2 linked regions of the Homo sapiens genome follow. The protein of the gene in region 1 interacts with the protein of each later gene in a pairwise test. Each region holds a gene or a part of one and is shown on either strand. Other genes may lie near its edges. The genes, in order: RBBP8NL and CHIA.

Region 1 (15,993 bases):
CTCGTGGATCTCCTTCAGCCTGTTCAGCGACTCCATGAAGCTCTCCATGGCTCCCTGTGGCCCTGGCCCGGGCCCCTCTGCGCTGGGGTTGTGGAGACGCCTGCAGCCTCTACTGCCCCTCTGTGTCCATCCTGAAGAGGAGGAAGAGGGGACAGGGATCCGCTCAGGAAGGGCTTGTGGGCTGTGGAGTCCAGGAGAGGATTGGGGCTCCTTGTGTCTGTATGGAGCAGACCCCATGCCATGCTGTAGGGGCTACTCATGGGAGGTGGCCTGGAGGCTCCCGAACCCCACGGGCAGGCACAGAGATAGTACATTGTGTGGCTTCCTCCCACACGTATGTGGCCGGGGGCCAGAGGGCAGGGTGCTGGCTGCCGTGCGGGAGGGGCTGGAGGGGCCAGGGAGCATCTGGGGTGAGTGCCGGCACCTCTGAGCCACCCCGTTCTCCCCAGGTATCCAGCCCATCAGTGCCTGGCCTGTCCCCACATAAGCCCTTCCCCTGGCACCTCAATGGAGGGACAGGGAAGCCTGGCAAGAGCTGGATGGTGCTGGTGGCACCTGCCCAGCTGTGAAGCTGGGAGTCAGACCTCACCAGTAAGAGCCCCACAGACCCTACCATGCCACTGTCCACACCCCGGCCCCAACACCACTGTCACAGCACCTCCTTCCCTCTCACCAGAGCCCTGTACTCAGTTCCCTCCTGGGATCTCTGTCCCCCTCCAATGCCGTGGCAGCTTCAATCCTGTCCCACAGGCACACACACACACACACACACACACACACACACACACACACACAGATAGCATGTGCACACAACACACATGCACATATATGCAAAAGACACACACAGAGCATGTACACACATAACACACATGCACAAAGACAGACACACCACACAGCATGTATACACACAACACACAGGCACACACCCAGAGTTACACACATACAACACATATGTACACAGACAGGGATGCCCACACACAACACACAGAGACACATAGACATGGGTATACGCAGACACATGCTGACAACAAAGCTGTGCAGACATAGAGACACAGCTACACATGCAGTTGCAGGTACACGGAAACACACACAGCCACAGCAGCCCCCTCTGCCCGGAAGCGGCTCCCACACGCAGATGCTGGAAGGTTCCAGGAAGAGGTAGGAGCCACTCTGAAGAGGTCACAGGCCCCCTCCCTCCCTGCCTGCCTCCCCTACCCACAGGTCTCAGGAGGTCCTTGGTAGGCAGTGGGTATCTTGTGGTCTCACGGACTAAGGCCAGAATTAAGGGGCCGTGGGGCCTTTGCAGGCTGGGCCTGGGGACCTGGGCTGGAGCACTCATCGTCAAACCCTCCCAGACCTTTCCAAATTCCCAGTGGCCTGGAGAGCTCCCAGGCAGGGCTGGGCGGAGTGAGCCTGGGGGCGCTGTGACTGTCTGTCTGTCCTCCCCTGACCCTTCCCCCTCCTCCCACAGATTGGCCTCCAGGCCTGGGAGGTTGGGATACCGGTCAAGTGGCTGGGCCTCTGCAAGCCAGTGTTTGTGGCACACAAACCGCTGCAGTTCAGACTTCTTCACCGGGTGGCTTGTGCTTCACGCGGTCGGGTGGGGGAGTGTGTGTGTTTGCCGTGTGTGTGCACGCCCGAGCCAGTGTGCATGTGTGTGCCGTGTGTGTGCATGATAGCCAGTGTGCGTGTGTGTGTGCCATGTGTGTGCACGCCCGAGCCAGTGTGTGTCCCATGTGTGTGCACACCTGAGCCAGTGTGCATGTGTGTGTGCCATGTGTGTGCACACCCAAGTCAGTGTGCGTGAGTGTGCGTGTGTGTGCCGTGTATGCGTGATTGCCAGTGTGCATGTGTGTGTGCCGTGTGTGTGCATGCCCAAGTCAGTGTGCATGTGTGTGCTGTGTGTGTGTGATAGCCAGTGTGCATGTGTGTGCACACCCAAGTCAGTGTGCATGTGTGTATGCCATGTGTGTGCACGCCTGAGCCAGTGTGCATGTGTGTGGCATGTGTGCATGATAGGCAGTGTGCATGTGTGTGTGCCAGAGCCAGTGTGCATGTGTATGTGCTGTGTGTGCATGCTCAAGCCAGTGTGCATGTGTGTGGCATGTGTGCATGATAGGCAGTGTGCATGTGTGTGTGCCATGTGTGTGCATACCCGAGCTAGTGTGCGGGTGTGTGCCATGTGTGTGCATGCCTGAGCCAGTGTGCATGTGTGTTTGCTGTGTGTGCACACCCGAGCCAGTGTGCATGTGTGTGTGCCATGTGTGTGCATCTGTTTTTGCTCTGTGTGTGCGTGCCCAAGCCAGTGTGCATGTGTGTGTGCTGTGTGTGTGCATACCCAACCTACTGTGGAACCACTGGTGCGTCACCTGAACAACTGTGTCGGCCTCCTCCCTGCCTGGCCTCCTGCTCAACCTTCCCTGAACCCCCTGCCTCCCCCCATCTCTTCCAGGACCACTCTCCATGGTGGCCATCCCTGGGAAGCTCTGGTCTCTGCTCAGATGTGCACCGCTCTGCTCAAAATCCAACTTCGGGCTCGCAGCTGGAGGCCATGCCCAAGGCCTCGCCACGGCCAGCCCAGCCCAAGTGGATCACAGAGCGGAACAGCCATGGCTGCATCTGGGTTCTCAAAGGTCAGCCTGGAGACGCCCACGTGAGGGTCCTGTGTGCAACATCATTCTACAGAACCGTCCCGAACAGGACCGCCTAACCCCATCCCATGACGGGTGGAATATGGTGGCCGCCCAGCCCCATGCCCATCCCAGCGTGGCCAAACCACCCAAGCCAGGCTTGAGGGTGCATTGAACACAGAAAGAGGCACTTGCCCTGGGGCCCTGGAAGTCAGGTGGTGGGCGTCTTTGGGGGTGGGGCTGGGGTGCCTCTAACTGAGGGTGGCAGGCCTTGGACCCCGAGAGAGGCCTTGGGACCCCGAGAGAGGCCATGGGGCCTGGGGTGGGGACGGGGACTGGGGTGGGGATGGCGACTGGGGTGGGGACGGGGACTGGGGTGGGGATGGGGCCCGGAGTGGGGATGGGGCCCGGGGTGGGGATGGGGACCGGGGTGGGGATGGGGACCGGGGTGGGGATGGTGACTGGAGCCACTTGGAAGGAGGGTGTCCTAACTCTTGCCGAGCCCTTGCACCTGTGATCAAGCATTAGTGCCGAGCCTGGTGGGGCAGCAAGGGGTGTGGGACAGAGTGTGGCCTGTGTTCGGGGGTGGCTGCAGCGTCCCCAGGGGCCCCTGACAGGGCTAGTGGGGCTGCATGGAGGGCGGAGCACCAGGATGCTGGGCTGCAGAGGCTCAGTCCACAGACCCGCCTGGGCTTTGGGGCCTCCAGCCACCCTCGGAGGGAGTGGGGGTGACAGTTGGCGGCTCTGTGTTGGGTGGGTGAGGGATCCTGGGACTAGGGAGACTTGGGGCTTTCCTGGTGGGAGGCTGGGAGGGATGTCTTTGCTGGTGAAGGGGACCAACAGGACGCTGAGCTCCAGAGGTGGGGACAGCATGGAGCCTGCCGGAAGCAGGTCACGTGGCCAGCATCAGTGGTTCTGACCCTGTTTCCCGAACTCCGTACACACTGAGACCTTCCTGACAGCCCACGGAATCTTGACCACACCACGAAGACCTCGCTCCAGATGGGGAAACTGAGGCTCAAACAGATCAAGCCTCCCGTCTCAGTCACCCAGTGGGAAGTGGGATCTGGGTTGTGCCCAGCTCCTGGGGCTGTGGGTCTGCATGCTCTGCCTGTGTGGACTGGGGCGTCCTCCCCATGGCTCTGGTGCACCCAGCTGCACTGGCTTTTCCTGGCCAAGGGGGCCCCTGGGAGGAAGATGTCAGAGCCGGGGCCTCCCTGGGCTCAAGCAGCTGAGGAGGGCCAGGAGGGGGCGGAGCTGCAGCTCCTGAAACTCCCCCCAGACCCGCCCAACAGGCCACTCTTCCCTGGCCCCCAGCATCTGCCATGTGGGCTGGGCCGACGCCCATAAAGGAGCCGCCCAAGGGAGCCCATGGTGCCTGCGGGCCTGGGAGAGGTCTCTGGGGTCCACACGAGAGGTGGGCTTCCTTCCCAGTGAAGTCACTGTGGTGCAGAGGCTGGGACGGAGCCTCTGCTGTGCCTCCCACTCACAGGATCCTTTCTGTGCCCGAAACCACCTGCAGCACTCCTAGAGTGCTGGAGAGCTCCGGGGAAGGGATGGGAGGTGGAGGGAAGTTGCAAGCCTTGGTGCTTTTGGGGAGAAGAAATGAACCAGGATTGTAGAAATTCACCCAGACCCGCACCCGCAGCCTTGAGCCAGGGGTCAGCAGCGGGGTCAGTGGGGCTGGCTTTTTCTTCCCGAGTCAGCCTTCTCTGGGTTTGTTGGGCTTGCCAAGGGCAGCTAGGGGTGCTGGGGCTGGGGGAACTCGGAAGGAGGGTCTCCTCCAGGCCTGGGTGGGGGCTGCAGTGGGGCTGTGATGGGGGAGCAAGCCTACCGGGGCGGGGAGGGGCTGGGCTGAGGCTCATGGGGGGCTTCACAGGGCTGGGGTGAGAGAGCTGAGCTCTGGTCCAGGGTCACCCTCAGCCACTCCTCCCACTCCCAGACCCTCCCACTCGGGAGTCCAGGCTGGAGGGTCTCTGTGGGTGCTGAGCCCCCTGGAAGGAGTGGGGGAAGGGGAGGGCAGGCTAGTGAGCCGCTGTCCCACCTGCTGCTTGCAGCTGGGCCGTGGGGGGGGCAGGTGTGAGGGGCGCATGTCTGTCCCCCTCGACACCACTCTCACCCCACCATGCCTTGCCCTCTGCTCCATTTTGCCACTGAGAACACGACCCAGAGGTGGCGTCTTGCCCACGGTCAAAGCTAGTGAGAGCCGGGCTGGGCTTCAGCTAACCCAGGCCGGCAGCTCCGCCTCCTGCAGTGAGGTGCTACTGGTGCCAGCACCTTTGCCTTCGGGGGACTGCTCCTTAAAACCAAGGGGCGACGTGCTGCTCTCACCAGAACGGAACAGAGCCCATCCAGTAAACGGGTGCCTCTTATCCCCCGGACAGGGCCCAGGAGAGCCCTCCATGGGGAGCCTGAGGCTGGCAGACCACCTTCCACCTCATGTCCTCATCCAGGGAATGGACATGCACTGTGGGCCCTGCCTGTCCCTCAGGACTCCCACCTCCCTCTAAAGGCCCCCCAGAGCCTGCACCTGCCCTCCTAGGGTCTCCACCCACTCTCCCAGGGCACTCTGGAGTGGCCACTCAGAGGGGGCAGAGGTTTGCTGTTGTTAATCCTACCTCACGCATTCTCAGAGCCCCAGCAGAGAGGGTGCACCCCCCCCACCCGCTGAGCTGGCTGGGGCGGGGCAGGGGTCGCATTCCTGAAGGGTGCTGGCTGGAGAGTCAGTCTGGGCGGAGGGTAAAGGTGTGGGCTTCCCAGTCAGCAGCCCTGGTGGGGCTCTCGGACCCATCTCTGCTCTCTATGCGGCCTTGGGCAAGTTGCTTTTCCTCTCTGAGCCTGTTTCCTCACCTGGGGGTGACAGCACCCCTGCCCCTGTATCAGGCTGCTTAGAAGCTCCTCACAGGTAATGCCTGTGTGGCCAGGAGCTCCGTAGACAGGAGCGCTCAGTGAGCAGCCGAGGGAGACCCCGATTCACCTGCGCCTCCCTCATGACCTGCGCCTCCCTCATGTGGGACCCCAGGTGTCCAGCAGTGCTGACGGCAGGACCCTCTGTGCTTGGACAAGGTCAAGTCTCATTGCCACAAAGGCCTTGTGCAGGAGGACGCAGCCCTCCCCACGCTCAGGGCAGAGGTCCGGCTTCTGACGGTGATGACACTCATCCTTGGACGGCTGCTCACTACGGACTCCAATGGGCTCACGGCATCTCTGTGGCTACACCCAGGGGAGATGCCACCTGCCTCCCACACACAGGCCAGGGAATCACAGGCCCAGCTGTGGCCCTGGCAGGACTGGACATTGTCCGGCCGAGTGCCAAAACCCACAGTGATGCCTGTTCTTACCCTGTCCTCTGGGAGGCCGGGCCCCCTGAGCTCCTCTGCTGTCTGAGCAGGAGGCATCCGGGGCATCACTGGGCTCCCCGCCTCTCCGAGGGCACTCAACCAGAGAAGCCGCCTGGGCACCAGTGCTCCAAGGACGTCTGCCAGGCCGGCTGCTCTCCACCCCAGCCACCGACCCCCAGCAGGCTCTTTGGGGCAGGAGTGCGGAGCTGGACACTGGTACCCTCCGTCTCTGAGGCCTGGGCTGTCTGTATGTCCATCTGACTGACTGCCCACCTATCCAGGAGCAACGGTGATGGCCACAGCAGTAGCAGTGGCAGTGGCAGTGGCATAGCAGTGGCAGTGGCATAGCAGTGGCAGTGACAGTAGCAGTAGCAGTGGCAGTGGGAGTGGCATAGCAGTGGCAGTGGCAGTAGCAGTGGCAGTGGGAGTGGCAGTGGCAGTGGCAGCGGCAGTGGCATTAGCAGTGGCAGTGGCAGTGGTAGCAGTAGCAGTGGCAGTGGTGACAGTGGCAGTGGAAGTAGCAGCGGCAGCGGCAGTGGCAGTGGCATTAGCAGTGGCAGTGGCAGTGGTAGCAGTAGCAGTGGCAGTGGTGACAGTGGCAGTGGAAGCAGCGGCAGCGGCAGTGGCAGTGGCATTAGCAGTGGCAGTGGCAGTGGCTGCTGTTGATCACATACTGTTCTGTGTCAAGCACCACACCAGGCTTTTTCCCACTTGCATGGGCACTGAAACCATCCTGCAGCTTTGCTGAGGAAGCCAAGCTCAGAGTGGTGCCCTCTGCACCTTGACCCGCTTCTCCCCAAGGGATTCCCCTGCCCCTGTCCACCTCCTGGCTGCCCCTGTGGAACACCCACTGCATAGCTAGGTTGGGCACATGCATGTGGCCGGGGCCCACCTGGCCTTGGAGGAAGTGCTGATTGTCTCATTCTACAGGTTTGGACACTGAGGCTTGAAGCAGATCAGAGATGAGCAGGTGGAGCAAGATTTGGACCTGGACATGGCCTCAGAGTCTCCTCCCACCCTCTGTGGTAATGGGCAAAGCCTCTCCCATGGAGACTTCGGCCAGGTCGCTTGTCTGGCCGTGCCTCAGTTTCTGTGACTGTAGAACAGATGTTGGTGGTGAGCCCTGACCCAGGCTCCTGTGCACACACCGCCGCAGGGCCCCCGGGACAGCTGCACACGCATGTTGTGTGTGCACATGCACTCGTGTACCCCACACGCGCGTGCGCCCGTGCACTCGTGTGTACACATAAACAGAGGAGCCAGCCGAGGTGTCCCTGCAGCTCAGGCACAGCAGCCCTGCAACCTGACTCCCTCCCGGAGGTGGAGGTGGGCCGGGCTGCTCTCCTGCCCTGCCGGCTGGCTCCCTGAGGCCTGGCCCGTGGGGGAGGGGGTTGAGCAAGGCCCGCCTTTGTGGCTGCTTCCCCACAGACACAGCGGCAGAGGAGTCCCCTGCTCAGTGCCCAGCTGCGGGTGCTGCACCCCTGCACCACCCTCACCCCTGTGGCTGCGCCCGCTTATCCTCTTGTGAACCTGGATGGTGGGGCGGGACAGGCCCAGGGTGGAGGGCGAGGCCACCAGCCTGTCCCTGATGCCCCAAGCCCCTCAGCAGACCATGGACACTTCCTGGGCCCTGGTGCCAGACTAGGCCTGGCCTCTTTGCACCCAGCTCCTGCCAGGAACGCCCACTGAGCTCTCTCCGTTGCTAGGTCCCTGGACCAGGAGCAGCCTTGTGCCACCCCTTAGGGAAGACGTCCAGTCCCACCCACCCCCGCGGCTCTCCTCGCAGGAGTCCAAGCTGGGCCTCCAGCCTCCCTGGTGAGCACCCCAGCCAGGGATCCCAGCTCACCCGGCTACTTGGGTGGCCTGGCCCCGGGGTCCCGGGTACTCACATGGCTCCTGGCCCTGCCTCAACCTCTGTCGACCTCTGCGCGGAGTCCCCCACGCTCTTCACAGGGAGAGAGAAGTGAGCGGGCTGTGAACCTGCACAGGCAACAAGACAGGATTTTGGCCAAACCCGCTTGACAGGTTTTCGATTCTCCCAGCCAGGAGCAGAAAGGAGGCAGAGACTGCCCTGAGCCGCCAGGCGGGTTCTGCCATCTCGCAGAAAGTGGCCGGACAGGTTGGGTCTGAAGCCACATAGAGTTGGGATTGTTTCCTCATAATCACTGTGAGGCTGGGCTGCAGGAGCCAAGCTGGTTAGCACTGAGAATCCAGTTTGGTGCCTGTGACACGGAGGGCCCGGGCGGGGAAGGGTGGGGGGCTTGCAGGGGTGCCTGGGTCGGGGGCTGCAGGTGGGAGTGAGCAAATGTGCTGTCTCGCCACCTCGGGACAGGTGGTAGGGCCTCTGACACAGAGTGGTCCTTCCTGCTGTTCACAGCTCAGCTCACCGTGGGCTGACCATAGGTAGGTGACAGTCCCCTTTCTGGCCTCGGTTTCCCTGTCTGTAAATTGGGGATAATAAGCTCAAGAGCTGTCCCTGCCAGAACCCAGTGGACAGAAATCCAGCAGCTGCTATGGGAAGCGACCCGCCCAGCCTGCCCCGCCCTGCCTGGGGAAGCAGGCCTTCTGCTTGAGGGGGACTGGGCGCATGCTGGGCCTCTGGTCTGCGCAGTCTGCCCGGGGTCTGTGAGTGCTTGTGAGTGGGCTTCTCCAGTCTCCAGGTAGGCTGGGTGCCCCCGGCCAGGTGGAGCCCAGGGGGGCAAATAGGCTGGGGGCTGGCCTGGCCCCGGGTGGCACGGCCCAGGTGCTGGAGCAGCCTCACACTGTGGTCTCGTGTGTGTTCCCTGGACAGCAACACTGTGGCTGCGGGGTACAGCCCTGACCCCCTCATGCCTTGCCCCCTGTGTCCTACCCACGACCCCTCCCCACTCCCTCCTCCCCGCCTCCACCTCCGCCTCTGCCTCATCCTCAGCCTGTCTTAGCTCTGCACGGAAGCAGAGCGGGGGTTCCCGAGTCCTTGGGGCCATGATCCCCAGCGCACCCGAGTACCCCAGGAATGCACGGGGCTCAGAGGAGGAAGCCTGGGAGCCTGGCCTGTAGCCGCTGCCGCGAGGGGAGGACGGACTTCCTGCTCCCTGGCAGGGCCCCTGCTGGTGGCTGGTGGCCAGCTCTGGGTTTGGGATGAGGGCTGGGTCATCTCTGGCCCCACGATGCCCTCCCACTCAGGACCAGGCTCTTGGGAGGGGGTTGTGGTCAGCATGGGCCACTCCAGCTCTGGCTGGCCTGGGAACTTCGTGGAGGCCCCTCCTCCGGCCACCTCCCTGTTCCTGGCTGGGCCCTTTGTGAGTGGGGTCTGCTTGCTGCTGGCGTGTGTTTTGTGTGTGCCTGTGTGGGGACTGTGTGCACGTGTGTGTGTGTGTGTGTGTGGGGATACGAATGTGTGTGCATGTCTTACATGTGTGTGCCTGTGTGTGCATGTGTTGCACGTGTGTGTGTGCACATGTGTGCGTGGACATGTGTAGCTGCTTTGTGCTGTGGTCTGGATGTTTTTTGTGTCTACCCCAGATTCTCGTTGAAATCCTAACGCCCCAGGCAATGATGTTAGGAGGCGGGGCTTCTGGGAGATGGCAAGTTCGTGAGGCTGCAGCTCTGCTGGGGGATCAGTGTCCTTCTACAAGCGGCTCCAGGGAGGTCCCTTGCCCCTTCCACCATGTGAGGACCCGAGATGGTGCCGTCTATGAACCGGGAAGTGAGTCCTCTCCGGACGTGGAACAAGTTGGTGCCTTGATTTTGAACTTGCAGCCTCCAGGTATGAATGTGAGCTCTGGGCTCACTGCCTGTGGGGAGCCCTGCCTCACAAGGAGGGGTCCCTCTGCATCTGCCATGCATGGCTGTTTCAATCAAAGCTGCTGTCTAACACCACCGGCTCGACCTTGAGTTCCTCCCTGAGCAAAGCCAAGCGACCTCCTGGACTGAGCCAGTTTTCGTGCCTGCCTGCCCTGGCTCATTGGCCAGGGACCCCACCCCGCCATGTCCAGGCCTTGGTGATACAGGACAGAGGTGCCCGTGCAGGTTGTGCCTGTGGCTGGGTCCCCAGGGAGAAGGTGGCAACCCCAGGCCAGCAGCCTCCTACCCTGAACTCCAGGCAACATCGTCGGCCCCCTGGCACTGCACCTGCACTGTGGGCAGAGAAGGAGGGAAGGCTGGGAGAGGAGGAGGAGGTCGAATGTCGCTGGAGGTCGGCGTCCTTCTGCAGCCGTGGGTTTGTGTGCCCCTTTGTTCATTCATGCAACCATCCAAGACCCATTTCCTGGCTGCCCACCAGGCCCTGTCCAGGCTCTGGGCACATGGATGGCCAAGAACGTGACTCACACATTTACGGGGCTTTTGGCTGTGAGAATCGGGCACACAGAGGGCACTGTCTGAGTCTCAGTTTACTTGTCCCTTGCAGGGCTGATGAGGGTGAAAGGGGTTCCTCTCCTGGTACCACTCACCTGTTCATTCATTCAGCCGATGTCTGTTGAATCCTGATCAGCCAGGAGCTGGGGGGTGTGATGGACACCCAGGCACCGGCGTCCGGGCTCGCAGGAAGCATTGCAGAATGAGGCAGCAAGGCCTCAACACGCTGCTGGCAAACCGTGGCCAGGTTTCAGCGTGGGGGCTGCTCCATCGCCCCATTATACAGCTGAGGAATGAGGCCCCAAGTGTGTGTGTGGCCTCCCAGCCCTGGCAGCCACCCCCACCTGCACCTGAGGGGCTGGGGCTGCTGGGCCTGGGGTGAGGGACCAAGAGGGCTCTTCATGGCCCCCTACACCTGCTTCCTAGGCCAGATGGGGGCCCAATGCCCCACCCCAGAGGTGAGGCAGCCTTTTATCTCTGAGCTGGGAGGGGTGGGAGATAAGCTTCAAAGGCATCTCGCTGTAAAACGCACCTTTAAAAGCCGGCCCTGCTGCCTGGTATTTGTGTTACTGGAGCGATAGATAAAGGGTGGGGTGGCCAGTGCAGTGGCCAGGTCAGGCCAGCCCTGCAGCCCTGGCCCCCAGATAAATGGGTCACCTATTAGCACGGCCCTGCAGGAATGGGACTGCCTTCTGTGACAACCGGGGCCCATCCCCACCCTCCCTGCAGACAAGCCCTTGCTGGCCCGGCTGGGGGGCATCCTGATGGCGGGTGCTGTGTGCCCATGGGGCCAGGCTGCACTGGGCAGGAGGGGTGCAGATGTGGGCCCTGCCTGGGCACTTGGGAGGGCGGAGGCTTTCTTGGTGGGGGGAAGGATCAAGCCCCCCGTCTTTCCTCCACATGGTCTCACTGCTAGTCACCCTATTTTATGTTCTCATGATTTTTATTTGTATAGCTTCATGGGGTTTAAGTACGATGATGCTGCATTGAGACGTTGTACTGTGTGAAGTCAGGGCCTTCTGTGCATCGGTCGAGGGTGCAATGCACACGGCACCCCCGAGCAGCCACCCATCCTCCCTTCCCTCCACCCTGCGAGGCCCCGTTGTCCGTCTGTCCACACTCTGCTCCATGAGCACACGTGACTTAGCTTCGCCTTGTGAGTGAGAACCTGCAGTATTTGTCTTTCTGTCCGAGTTGTTTCACTTAAGATAACGTAGGCACCCTCTTTTAAAAATTACTTTTTGCTAATACAAGAACTGCAAGGATGCCCCCTGCCCCCTCCTGCGAAGCACTAAACATGACAAATAAGACCAAAGTCTCCTTTTATTGTCGCGTCTCATCCCCTCCCCAGGTGAGCCGCTGCTTGGGGTGAGCATGCTTCCTGCTGGATGCTTCTCTATGTAAGCACCTGCCTGAGTGTCAGCCCTCTTAAGGTGAACCGCTCCGTGTCATTCGTACATTCACAAGTTTGTGCCGCCATCATCGTGATCGGATTCCAAAACATTTTCATCACCTCCAAGAAAGCCTTGTACCTGGCAGCAGTCACTGTCTCTATGGATTTGCTTATTCTGGACATTTCATAAAAATAGAATCAAACAGCATTTGGCTCTTCGTGTCTGGCCTGTTTCTCTGAGCACGATATTTCGAAGATTCAGCTGGGTCTCGCTCCTGTTCCTGGCTGAAGCTGAATAATATTCCAGTGCACGGCTGGACCACAGTCATCAACTGACGGACACTTGGTGGTCTCACATTTCCACTGGTGTGAATAGTCCTGCTGTGAACATGCGTGTGCGAGATTTTGGTTGAACACTTGTCCTCAGTCCTCTTGGGTGTGTATCTAGGAGTGCAATTGATGGGGCTTATGGTAACCCTAAGTTTAACTTTCGTTTACTTTTTTGAGACAGAGTTTCGCTCTTGTTGCCCAGGCTGGAGTGCAGTGGCACGATCTCGGCTTACTGCAACCTCTGCCTCCAGGATTCAAGTGATTCTCCTGTCTCAGCCTCCGGAGTAGCTAAGACTATAGGCATGCGCTACCACGCCCAGCTAATTTTTGTATTTTTAGTAGAGACGGCGTTTCACCATATTAGTCAGGCTGGTCTTGAACTCCTGACCTCAGGTAATCTACCTGCCTTGGCCTCCTAAAGTGTTGGGATTACAGGTGTGAGCCACCGCGCCCAGCCACTGTAGTATTTTTAAGAAGTCTAAATTAATGGGAAAAATTCACAATGAACCAAATAACCAAGTTTTATATAAAGACAGGATTAGGGTGAGGCAGGCGAGTCCCTTACTCTTGGGGCTGTGAGAGTGTGGGGTGGAATCGGCTCCAGGGTCCCAAGGTGTGGCCGGAGAATGGGCCTGGTAGGGAGACCTGGGCATGGTGCCCGTCTCCGGCCTCTGTCCTGTAAGGGTTTGCCTATGCCTCCGCCTCATCAGATTGCTCTAAAGATAGGACACAGCAGCACACGGGGCCCAGGCTGGGGTGAGTGGACCCCTCCCTGAGACCTTCATCTGCCACCGAGGTGAGGACAGCCATCAGCCTCCTCAGAGCCTTAGGGTCTGATCCCTCCTGGACCGGCCCACAGATCCCCAACGGACTGGAGTCCCCTGTGGCTGCTCCCCTCCCTCTCCCAGCCAGCTCTTGGGCATCCAAGCACCCCTCTGCAGGGAAGCCCTCCATGACTGTAGGTAGGTCAGGCCTTTTCCCAACAGGCCTGTAAGATGCAAGTCTTGGGTAGAAACTGTGTATTGGCTCAGGGGTCTTCAGGGTGCTACCTTCTTGAGACAGGAAGTGTTTGCCCGTTCATTGCTGTCTTGGCCCCTGGCATATGGTGGTACTTCATAAACATTTCTTCCTTTCTTTTTCTCTGAGGCAGGGTCTTGCTCTGTTGCTCAGGCTGAAGTGCAGTGGTAAGACCATAGCTTGCTGCAGCCTTGAACCCCTGGGCTCAAGTTATCTTCCTACCTCAGCCTCCTGAGTAGCTGGGACCATAGGTACACGCCACCATGCTTGGCTAAATTTTTAAAAATGTTTTGTAGAGATGGGGGTCTCTCTTTTCTGCCCAAGCTGATTTTGAACTCCTGGGCTCAAGCGATCCTCCCGCCTCGGCCTCCCAAAGTGCTGGGATTACAGGTGTGAGCCACCGTGCCTGGCCCTGGTGGGTTGTGTCTTACCCAGAAAACTCAAGTGCTAAGAGGCAAAGCCTAAAGGTTCCTCTGGGCTGAGACGGGATGGGCCCTGCTTGGTGAGAACTGGGGAGTGGTTTAGGGGAGGGCTGTGTTTCCTAAAGAGCCGACAGAAGCCTTTTACTCTGGCTAAACTATTTGTTCCTATACCTTTGTTAAATATTATGAAAATGAGGGTACCTGTGGAATGGGGACCCTGTGTGTGGAACTGGGGGGATGGCTGGGAGGGGTCTTCCCAGGCCAAGTCCTGGTTGGGCTCTTGCCTGGGATGTGTGGGGTGGAGGCTCCGGGGAGGGGGCAGAGGTGCCTGGGGGTGAACCAGCGGGTACCCCGGGCCATTTTGACCTCTGACCTCAGCTTCCTTTTTGAGACAGTGGGGCTGCCTTGGTGCCTCTCTCCTGGAGGGTGTGGGTTAAATGAGAGGGGTTCTGTGCCAGGGCCCAGGGCTGTGCCACTCACTGAGGGTCCTAGCGACACTCCTGAGATGGTTCTTATTTTGTCACCATTTTCCAGGGCAGTGCCAGCCTTGGCAGACGGGCCGGACAGAGGAGGGATGATGGCTCAGGCTGGCAGGGGCTGCCACGGGGCAGCGATGGCCACCTCGAGCCTGGCCAGTGCTTCTGGACTTCCTCTCTGCTGACTTTGTTCCCTGGCTAGAAACAGTTGTGGCAGCGCTCCCAGACCGGGCGTCTGCACGGAGTGGCCTCAGCTTCCTTGAGCTGTGGGAATTTAACGAGAGTAAAATGGGACCATAAATCTCTGTCGGTCGGGATAACTTGATCCGTGATTTTGGAGGGCAGGCCGGAGCAGGGACAAGGAGGTGTCTGTGATGGGAGCGATCCCCGGACTGAGCTGGGCTGTCTGCTGGCACGTCACAGATAATAAAACCGCGTCGTCCTGCAGCACACGGAGACTGTGTCAGATCGAGATGTCATAACCTGTGCCTTGTGGCCAGGAGCCTGGTGTCGGGGAGGCACGGTCCATACATCACAGATCCCACGCACATCATAAAGATACATTAATGGTCTATGTGTCTTTAAAGAAATACTAATATTGTTGTTTTATGAGAAACTAGAGTTGAAAATATTAAAAGTCAGAATTTTATGGCCTAAAAGAAAGTTAAATGATGAGGATGTGGGAAGGGAGACTGAAGTATCCGTCACCGCCCGAGCCAGAGTCCTGGATGGGGACATGGCGGGGGAGGGGCCGCCTGGCTTTGATGAACTTGGCCAGCTCTGGCAGCCTCTGTGTGAACCTTCGGCTCAGTTAGAAGCTTCCTCCTTGGGAAGGGTTTGGAAAGCCGAGATAGAGGACGAGGGCATTGGGGTTGTCCAAACAGTTGCATGGCTCGGCAGTGGGACACATGGCAGGAACAGGGCCTCCAGGAAGCCCAGGCCCTCCTGTTTTGGGGCATGATCAGGGAGCGTGGATGGGGACACCCAGAGGACTCGGTCTCACCCAAGCCCTTTCCAGAAGGAAATCCTCCTGGCTTGCCACATGCTCCTTGTCGGATGACAATTTCCTCTGGTGCAGGTTTAAATTTTTATGTGACAGATCGGCTTGAATGACCCTTGGAAAAGGAGCAAGTGAAGGGGCAGTGGAAGGCACCGTGGATGGCACCGTGGATGGCACCATGGATGCCTGGGGTGTCAGGGGCGAGGTCCTGGCCTGAGCCATGCAACCACATGTGGGGCCGAGTCCCCCAGACCCAGGGACCAGCTCCTTCCACCCTGGAATCTGCGTGCAGCAGGCGCTGATGAGCGTCTGTGGACGAGGGATGGATTGACCTGGGTGAATGCGCCTGTGGGCGAGGGATGGACTGATCCCTTTTCTTCGCTGGCTGTGCCCCTTACCCACGGCTGTGCTCTGTGCTGGAGTCAGTGGGGAATTCGGGGCCTGAGGGCTCTTTGCAGCTCTCTCTTGCCCCATTGTGCCTGCGTGAGGACCCCTGGGACACGGGCACACCCAGGGTGAGGATCTGCCAAGGCTTTGCTCAGGGTTTAAGATGCTTATTACTAAGGTGAGATTTCCATGAAATAAAATCACTCATTTTAAGGGAGTCAGTTCAGGGGTGTTTAGCGCATTCACTCTGTCATGAGCCAGCACCTTGACCTAGTTCCAAAACATTTTCCTGCCCCCAAAAGGAGACCCTGTGCCCATTAGCAGGTCCTCCCCATCCCTCCCTCAGCCCTGGCGACACTGCCCTGCTTCTGTCCCCGGATTTGCCAGCTGGGTGTTTCGTGTCACCGTATCCACGCCACGTGCAGTCTCTTGTGCGTGGCTTCTTTTCCTGAGCACTGTGCTTTTGAGATTCACCTCCATGGTAGCTTGCACCTGTGCTTCGCTCCTGTTAAGTTCTGGGCTGCATGGACGGACTGCAGTGATCTGCTCATCCGCTGATGGGCATCTGGGTGGCCTCCACTTTTGGCTGGGAAGAGGCTGCTGTGGGTGTCCAGGCACACTCCTGCCTTCGGCTCTTTTAGGTGTTTTGCTCAGGATTT
Region 2 (7,836 bases), on another chromosome or scaffold:
ACCTTGGCCTCTCAAAGCACTGGAGTTATAAGCATGAGCCACCACATCTGGCCCCATTGATGTTTTTGGGCCATTTTCTAACATCATAGGCAAAATTAACTCAAAATAGATCAATGGCCTAAATGTAAGATGTAAAAGTATAAAATTCTTAGAAGAAAACATAGGGCAAACAGTTCATAACATTGGACTTCCAATGATTTGTTGGATATGACACCTAAATCACAGACAACAAAAGAATACAATGCACAAATTGGACTTCATGAATATTTTAAATGTTTGTATATCAAAAGACAATGCAAACAGAGTAAAAGTGCAACTCACGGAATGGTAGAAAATATTTGCAAAGAGTTTATCTGATAAGAGATATTCAGAATATAGAGAGAACTTCTAAAATTCAATGACACACACACACACAACCAAACAACTTGATTCAAAATGGACAAAGGACTTGAATATCTATTTCTTCAAAGAAGATATTGAAATGGCCAATAAACACATAAAAAGATGCTTAATGCCATTAATCATTAAGGAAATGCCTATCAAATCTACAATGAGACATCACCTCATATCCACTAGGATGGCTACTATCAAAAAACAGAAAATAATAAGTGTTAACAAGGATGTGGAAAAATTGGAGCAGTTGTGCCCTGTTGGTGGGAATGTAAAACGGTACAGCTGCTATGGAAAACAGTATGGAAGTTCCTAAAAAAATCATACATAGAATTACCATATGATCCAGCAATTCCGCTTCTAGGTATACCCAAAATAACTTAAAGCTTGGTGTCAAAGAAATATTTGTACTTCCATGTTCACAGTAACATTACTCACCATAGCTAAAACATGCAAGCAACTCAAGTGTCCTTCAGTGAATGAATGGATAACAAAACTGTTATATATACATACAATAAAGTATTATTCAGCCTTTAAAAGGAAATTCTGACTTGCTACAACATGGATGAATCTTGAGACATTATACTCAATGAAAAAAGCCAGTCCAAAAAGACAGATAATATATGATTTTTCTGTTTATGTGAGATACTTAGAATAGTCAAAATCATGGAGACAGAAAGTAGAATAGTGGTTTCCTGGAGCTGGGGGAGGGGGAAATGGGGACTTACAGGTTAATGAGTATAGAGCTGGAGTTTTACATGATGAAAAGAATTATGGAGATGGAAAGGAGAGATGGCTCAAGAACATTATGAATGTATTTAGTACCACCGAACTGTACACTTAAAATATTTAAGTTGGTAATTTGTTTTGGTCTATTTTACCACAAGAAAAACATTTTTAAAACATGGAAAAAAAGATAACGGAGACTGGCCCATGCAGTCAATGTAAGTGAGAATGCCAGTTTATTCACATACAAAGAGGGTAAGACTGTTAGAATAACCAATGCCAGTCAATTGCAGAGAGCATTCTCCCACATCTGTCCAGCACAAAGGTTGCCATATGACAGAACAGAATATCAGCATGGTCTCTAGAATCGCTAACTTATATTTCAATTTTTGTTCTCCTTCTTTCTAGATATGTGACATTAGACAAGTTATTTCACCTGTGAACCTCAATTTCCTCATGTATTACATATGGATAATACTAGTTGTTGTCTTATAGGGTTGTTGTGAGAATTAAATGAGATAACCTACCTAGCACTGGGCCTAGCACATGTTAGTTATTTAATAAATTTTAGTTAATGTTATTTTTCCCAATCTGAAGACCTCAAGTCCTTGGATAGCTGAGGAGTAATTATAGGGGAAAGGGGAGTTTGCACACAAAACATTGTGTGTGAATTAAATACCTTACATGTTTCAAATATAAATTTATTACAATTACTATTTTTAAGATTTAATTTAATTCTATTTTATTTTAAGTTCCGTGATACATGTGCAGGACGTGCAGGTTTCTTACATAGGTAAACATGTGCCATGGTGGCTTGCTGCACCTATCAACCCATCACCTAGGTATGAAGCCCCACATGCTTTAGCTCTTTATCCTGATGCTTTCCCTACCCCCACCCCCCCCCGACAGGCCCCAGTGTGTGTTGCTCCCCTCCCTGTGTCTATGTATTCTCATTATTACAATTATTTTTAAAATATAGATGTTTAAATAAAATACTAATTCATTTGGAAATTCCAGTTGCATTTTGCTATATATTTTTCCCCCCTTTTTAAAAAAAATTTTACTTTAAGTTCCAGGATACAAGTGCAGAATGTGTAGGTTTGTTACATAGGTATACGTGTGCCATGATGGTTTGCTGCACCTATCAACCCGTCATCTAGGTTTTAATCCCCACATGCATTAGGTATTTGTCCTAATGCTCTCCCCCCCTTGCCCCCAACCCCTCAGCTGGCTCCAGTGTTTCTTGTTCCCTTCCCGGTGTCCATGTGTTCTCATTGTTCCAACTCCATCTTATGAGTGAGAACATCCAGTGTTTAGTTTTCTGTTTCTGTGTTAGTTTGCTGAGGATGATAGCTTCCAGCTTCATCCATGTCCCTGCAAAGACATGATCTCATTCCTGTTTATGGCTGCATAGTATTCCGTGATGTATATGTACCACATTTTCTTTATCCAGTCTATCATTGATGGGCATTTGAGTTGGTTCCATGTCTTTGCTATTGTAAATAGTGCTGCAATAACCATACGTGTGCATGTGTCTTTATAGTAGAATGATTTATATCCCTTTGGGTATAAAATGATCTGTGTGAGAGATGTGTGAGGGGAGGAGAAAAGACACACACACAATACCTTTAAGGGTAAACAACCTTTATCTCACATAAATGGCAATGCAGATGTAATAAGCAAACGATATAATAAACAACTTGATATAATAAGCAAATTGATATAACAATCAAATTGCAATGGGAAAGGGAGAAGGGAAAAGATATATATATATTTACACTCACCAGACTATGGAGGATTCACCACCAGACTGGAAAGCAACAGCCTGGGCTCCAGAGTCGGCCACCTGTTCGTGCACAGACGAGGAGGTTTCATGAAGCTTTGGCACCGTCTGGGACTCTAGCTGTTTTTGTAACGAGTTGTTTGGCATGAGGCCCAGTAACAAGGGCCCTTCACAACTAGGTTCAAGGAACATAAAAAGGTCAGCTTGTTTTTTGAGACTGTCTATTTTTTTCAATAACTAACATATAGGACTAGATTGAAATAGAGATTTTTCCAAAACAGTGCTGGATGAACGCCTCAAGGGGCTCACACAACCTGTTCCGGGACTTGGTGACCATTGTTTGTGTCCATGTTCAGTTGAGTTCAAATTTAATATTTAACTTTTCCTCCACATTTGGCCTCAATCTGATACTCAATTGCAGGAAAATACCCTTACAGATACATGGGGAAGGGATATTTGATATAGTTTACAGATACAGGTTAAGTACAGCAGAATTAAAAGCACAATTAATAAAAACCACACCCAACATGGCTTTGTGAGTAATATTGTGAGAATTGTTAGGGCTATACACAGAACATTCAGTATGCAGTAAGGTGCAAAACCCTCCTTGGGCTGAGGTAAGCGTATCTAATGCCATTTGATTTTGTAACACAACAGTACGCAGCTGAGCAAATTCATCTGATAACAACTTAAGTCCAGTGTCCGACTCTGGAGCCTAGGCTGTTGCTTCCCAGTCTGGTGGGGAATCCTCCTTTCAAAAAGCAAAAGTTAGCTTCCTGTTGGGCTTTGCTGGAAACAGAACACCTCTGCTTCAACCATGATGTCTTTATGAAGCCTGAAATTCCTATTATGACTTGGGTCATGAGTTCCCCCAAAACTCACTGGATATTTTTTTCCATAGACAAAGATAGGGACCATCATCAATTTTATCATGTTTAACCCTTTATATAGAAGCAGTAATCACATAGACTTTCTAAGACGGAGCTATAGTGGGAGTCTACCCAGAAGTTCGGTTAGTTCAATCAGCCTATTTCAGATTATCTTCTTCACTTGTTATGAGGGAACTAACCTCATAAGTCACATACTTTGTCTTTCCTTCCCTTTGCACCCATTTAACTGGAGCTCATAACACCCTAATAACATGACAACCTGTGCCATCTTGAACTGATCCTATCAGTCATAGGAAGAGGGTCAGAGGATGGAATTTGTTTGATCCTGCTTGGATAAGACCATATATAAATCATTTCACATTCACCAAAGTTTTCAAATTGTAATTTCATTCAAGATGCTGAGTCAAGTTCCCCTCGGTCTGCCTCCTTAGAGCTAATTCTTCCAAGGCCAATAATAACAATCATGGAATGCTAGGCTCGATGATCTTAACTACGCAGTATCACTTTTATCACTCTGTATCTTCAGGAATTTAGTGGACTAGTCCCCATGACTGCCATACGAATCTTTGAAAGCGATGGGATCATCTGAGAAACACTTTTTAAATCCCAAGTCCCTTGGTTCACTTCTAGAAGGCCATGGTAGGTGCCCCTAGTCTGACATCCAGCTCTCTACACCAGTTGTCAAGTGATTCAGGGTGAGTAGCCAAGCAGCATGCACACTGGGCTTTCTGGAATAGTACTTCTGGGTAAAAAGTCAGAGACAGAAGCGATGGCAGATGAGTGATCCTCTGGTGTTTATTTTATTCTCAGGCAGCATACAACAATCTAACATAGCACATATCTAGCTCTGAGAAAGAGGCTCTGGGCTTTGGATGTTGGGACTTTTAAGCTTCTTAACAAAACTCTTCTTTAGTGAGATTAGGATATGGGATCTAATAGCAGTATGATATAGCAGAACCTTGGCTTTCAGTCTTATCTACTACCTTAGCATTCATCTGTTGGGAGAACACTTGGCTTTCTTCTGGTGTAATCCAACCCCGTGATTATGCACAACTGCTTGGTGTAAACTTGGCTGAAGTTCTCATTCACCATGGTCAGCTCTCTGCCAGGATGGATTGCATTAGGACCTAGGCTATAGATTATAGCTGGTTTCCAGAGGCAACAGGCCAACTTTCTTTTCCAGGAGGCCGCCTGCAGGTCTGTTAACTCAGGCAAGTTAAATCTTACCTCTCAACTGTTTTATAGGAGAAATTGACAAAAACCATCATAATCAAGGTATAACCTTGTTAAGTTATTGAACTTCAAGAATAAATCATGAATTCTTCAGGCACTCACAGGAAAAAAATCAAATAACTTTAAAAGTGTGGATTAAAGAAAGGGTAGTGATTATCCACTGTCTTCAAACATCCCTACAACAATATTCAATGCCAGGACACAGTGGAGCAATGCCTACTATCTAAGGCTAAGTTCACCTGGAAGTAGCTCATGTGAGAGTAATTTGGGAGTGGAATGCAAAGAATAAGTAAGAGACAGGGGAGTGAAACAGGGAAGAAGGGAGGGCCAATAAAATCATGCTTTTATCATATTAGCCACTGGTAGAAACAACTAAATGCTCTATCCCTTTGGAACGGTGTTAAAAGTCTTACAAAATGTGCTTCTAGAACATCAGGGGAGGAAAGGTGGAAACATTACGTTTCCCTGATGTTTGTAAGTGACAGTAACCCCTCTGCATGTCTAGATTGTACCTGCTTGAGTGGAAACCTGTATCTCAGAAGCCCTAGGAAGGGTAGCAAGAAGTACACAACACAGATCTGAGGTAAGATTCCATAACGCCATGAAGACCATTAAGGCTTATGCAGAATTGGTGGCTGTAGCTTCAACTGGAATTAAAAGGTAAGGCAGAGATGATTTGAAATAATGTTAAGAAGTTTTGTCTACACCTGAAGAGTTCTGAGGAAAAGAAAGTACAAGCCTATCGTATTATACTCTACCAAGTATAATATTCTTGAAGTATACTTTTCAAGAACCGAGGAGACAGGCAGATATTCTCACGTATAAAAGAACTTAAGGCCTGTGGCAGCCACAGAACTACTTGAAAAAACTGTTCAACTACAAAACATCCAAACCTGAAAAAGTAAATGAAAGAGCCATAGGAAAAACACTAGCTCAATATTCAATGCCAGAATAAAAAGCAGTAATATTTACAAAATTTTGAGTAAAAGAGTGAGCCAATATCTATGTCCAAAAAGTTACCAATCAAGTATAAAGGCAACAGTCAGGCACTTTCATACATGCAAGAAAATGGAAGATACTCCAAGTCCTTCTTGGCAAACAAAAACAAAACAAACAACAAGATAATTAAAGAAATGAATATTGGATAAGCTGTAGTGTAAGTATAGGGGATGAATATTGCATTGATTTAAATATAGGACTTCAGTTCTGTTATAAAACAAAGTGATATTAAAAATTTGGGGCTGGATGTGGTGGCTCATGCCTGTAATCCCAGCACTTTAGGAGGCTGAGGCTAGAGAATTGCTTGAGTCCAGGAGGTCGAGGGTGCACTGAGCCATGTTCGTGCCTTTGTACTCCAGCGTGGGGAACAGAATGAGACCTTGTCCCAAAAATAAAAATTTTTAAGTTAAAAAAATTTTTTGACTCTGTGAAAATAATAATAAAAATAAGAAAGTGAGAGGTATGGAAAGAATGTTAGATTTTTATCTCCCATATCTCTAAATAAGTAAATGTGGGTTTGAAAACATAAATTCAGCTTCTGTTTTCCATAATCTTTTATTCTTAATCCCATTTTTTGCTTCCCTTTAACACATATAAGACAGGTTTTTGTATCCTTACTGTCTTCAATTCTTACCTTTCCATTCTCTCTGAAACCTACTGCACTCAGGCATTTGCCACCAAGATGTTTACCAACCCCACTTCTGTCAAGTTTGTCAATGATCTACAGGTTGTTAAACATAATGGTCAATTCTCAGACTTCATCTGACCTGACCTAAGTAGTATTTGACAAACTTGATCGCTTTCTCCTCCTTAATATGGTTCTTTCCTTGGCTTTCAGGATACTTGACACTTGGTTTTCCTTCTACCTCACTTAGCCCTCCTTTTTTGGTCTTCATTACTTGTTCCTACTCTTCTCTCCAGCCTCCCTCTGAATGCTGAAATGCTCAGGGCTTAGTCCTTGAATGCTTTCCTTTCTCTGTCTCCCTTAATGATCTCATCTAATCTATTGACTTTAAATACCAACTACCTCTAAAAATGTTATGTCCAACTATAAATACCAACTACCTCTAAAAATGTTATGTCCAACTATCTACTCCACATCTCCAATTAGAAACCCAATAACAATCTTAAATTCAACATGTCCAAAGTTGAACTTCTGCTCTTCCTTCATAATCTACTCTACTTTTAGCTTTCTCCATTTCAGTTGATGATAATTTCATATTTGCAATTTCTTAAGCCAAAATGTTGAAATTATCCTTGGCTCCCCTTTTTGTCTCCCACGTTCTACATGCAACCCATAAAGAAACCTGCTGGCTTAACAAATCTTAAGAATACAGCTGAAATTCAATCACCTCTGACCACTTCTACTGCTACTACTTTGTTCTGAGCCTGCACCTCTCCCCTGAATCACTGCAATAGCCTCCTAATTGTGCATTCTCAGCCAAAAGGGCAAATCAATCACTTTAAAATGACATTTGCTTATGGGTCATTGTTATCTGAGTCTTACATTCTTGGGCTCCCCAGCCTTCATCTGAATACATGTTTTGAGAATGAAGGGACCATGTATTTTCCTTTAATCCCCCTGCTTCCGCTACCCAACATCCAGGACTAGCAGTGCATGCTGCAGGCTTGGGTGCTGGTGGAGCAACTGTATATCATTGGGAAATAGGGATCAATTACATCTAAGATCCTACAGTAAAGAAGCAGAAGCGATTGTACAGTAATGCTCAACCTTTTATTGCACAACAACTTCTGAGGCTGGGTGAGGTGATATCTGAAAAATGTTATCACCAGCTGCAGCAGGAGCAGAAGGTA

Evidence for each region.
Region 2: the proteins of RBBP8NL (region 1) and CHIA interact in binary tests that used the Homo sapiens proteins (3 or more experiments, as listed by UniProt).

Annotation. Positions count from the first base shown.
Region 1 is NC_000020.11:62,419,600-62,435,592, forward strand, and holds the start of RBBP8NL (RBBP8 N-terminal-like protein), read right to left. Parts: upstream 7,941-15,993; 5' UTR 7,861-7,940; intron 132-7,860; 5' UTR 49-131; coding exon 1-48.
Region 2 is NC_000001.11:111,286,015-111,293,850, reverse strand, and holds the start of CHIA (acidic mammalian chitinase isoform c precursor), read right to left. Parts: upstream 3,001-7,836; 5' UTR 2,901-3,000; intron 1-2,900.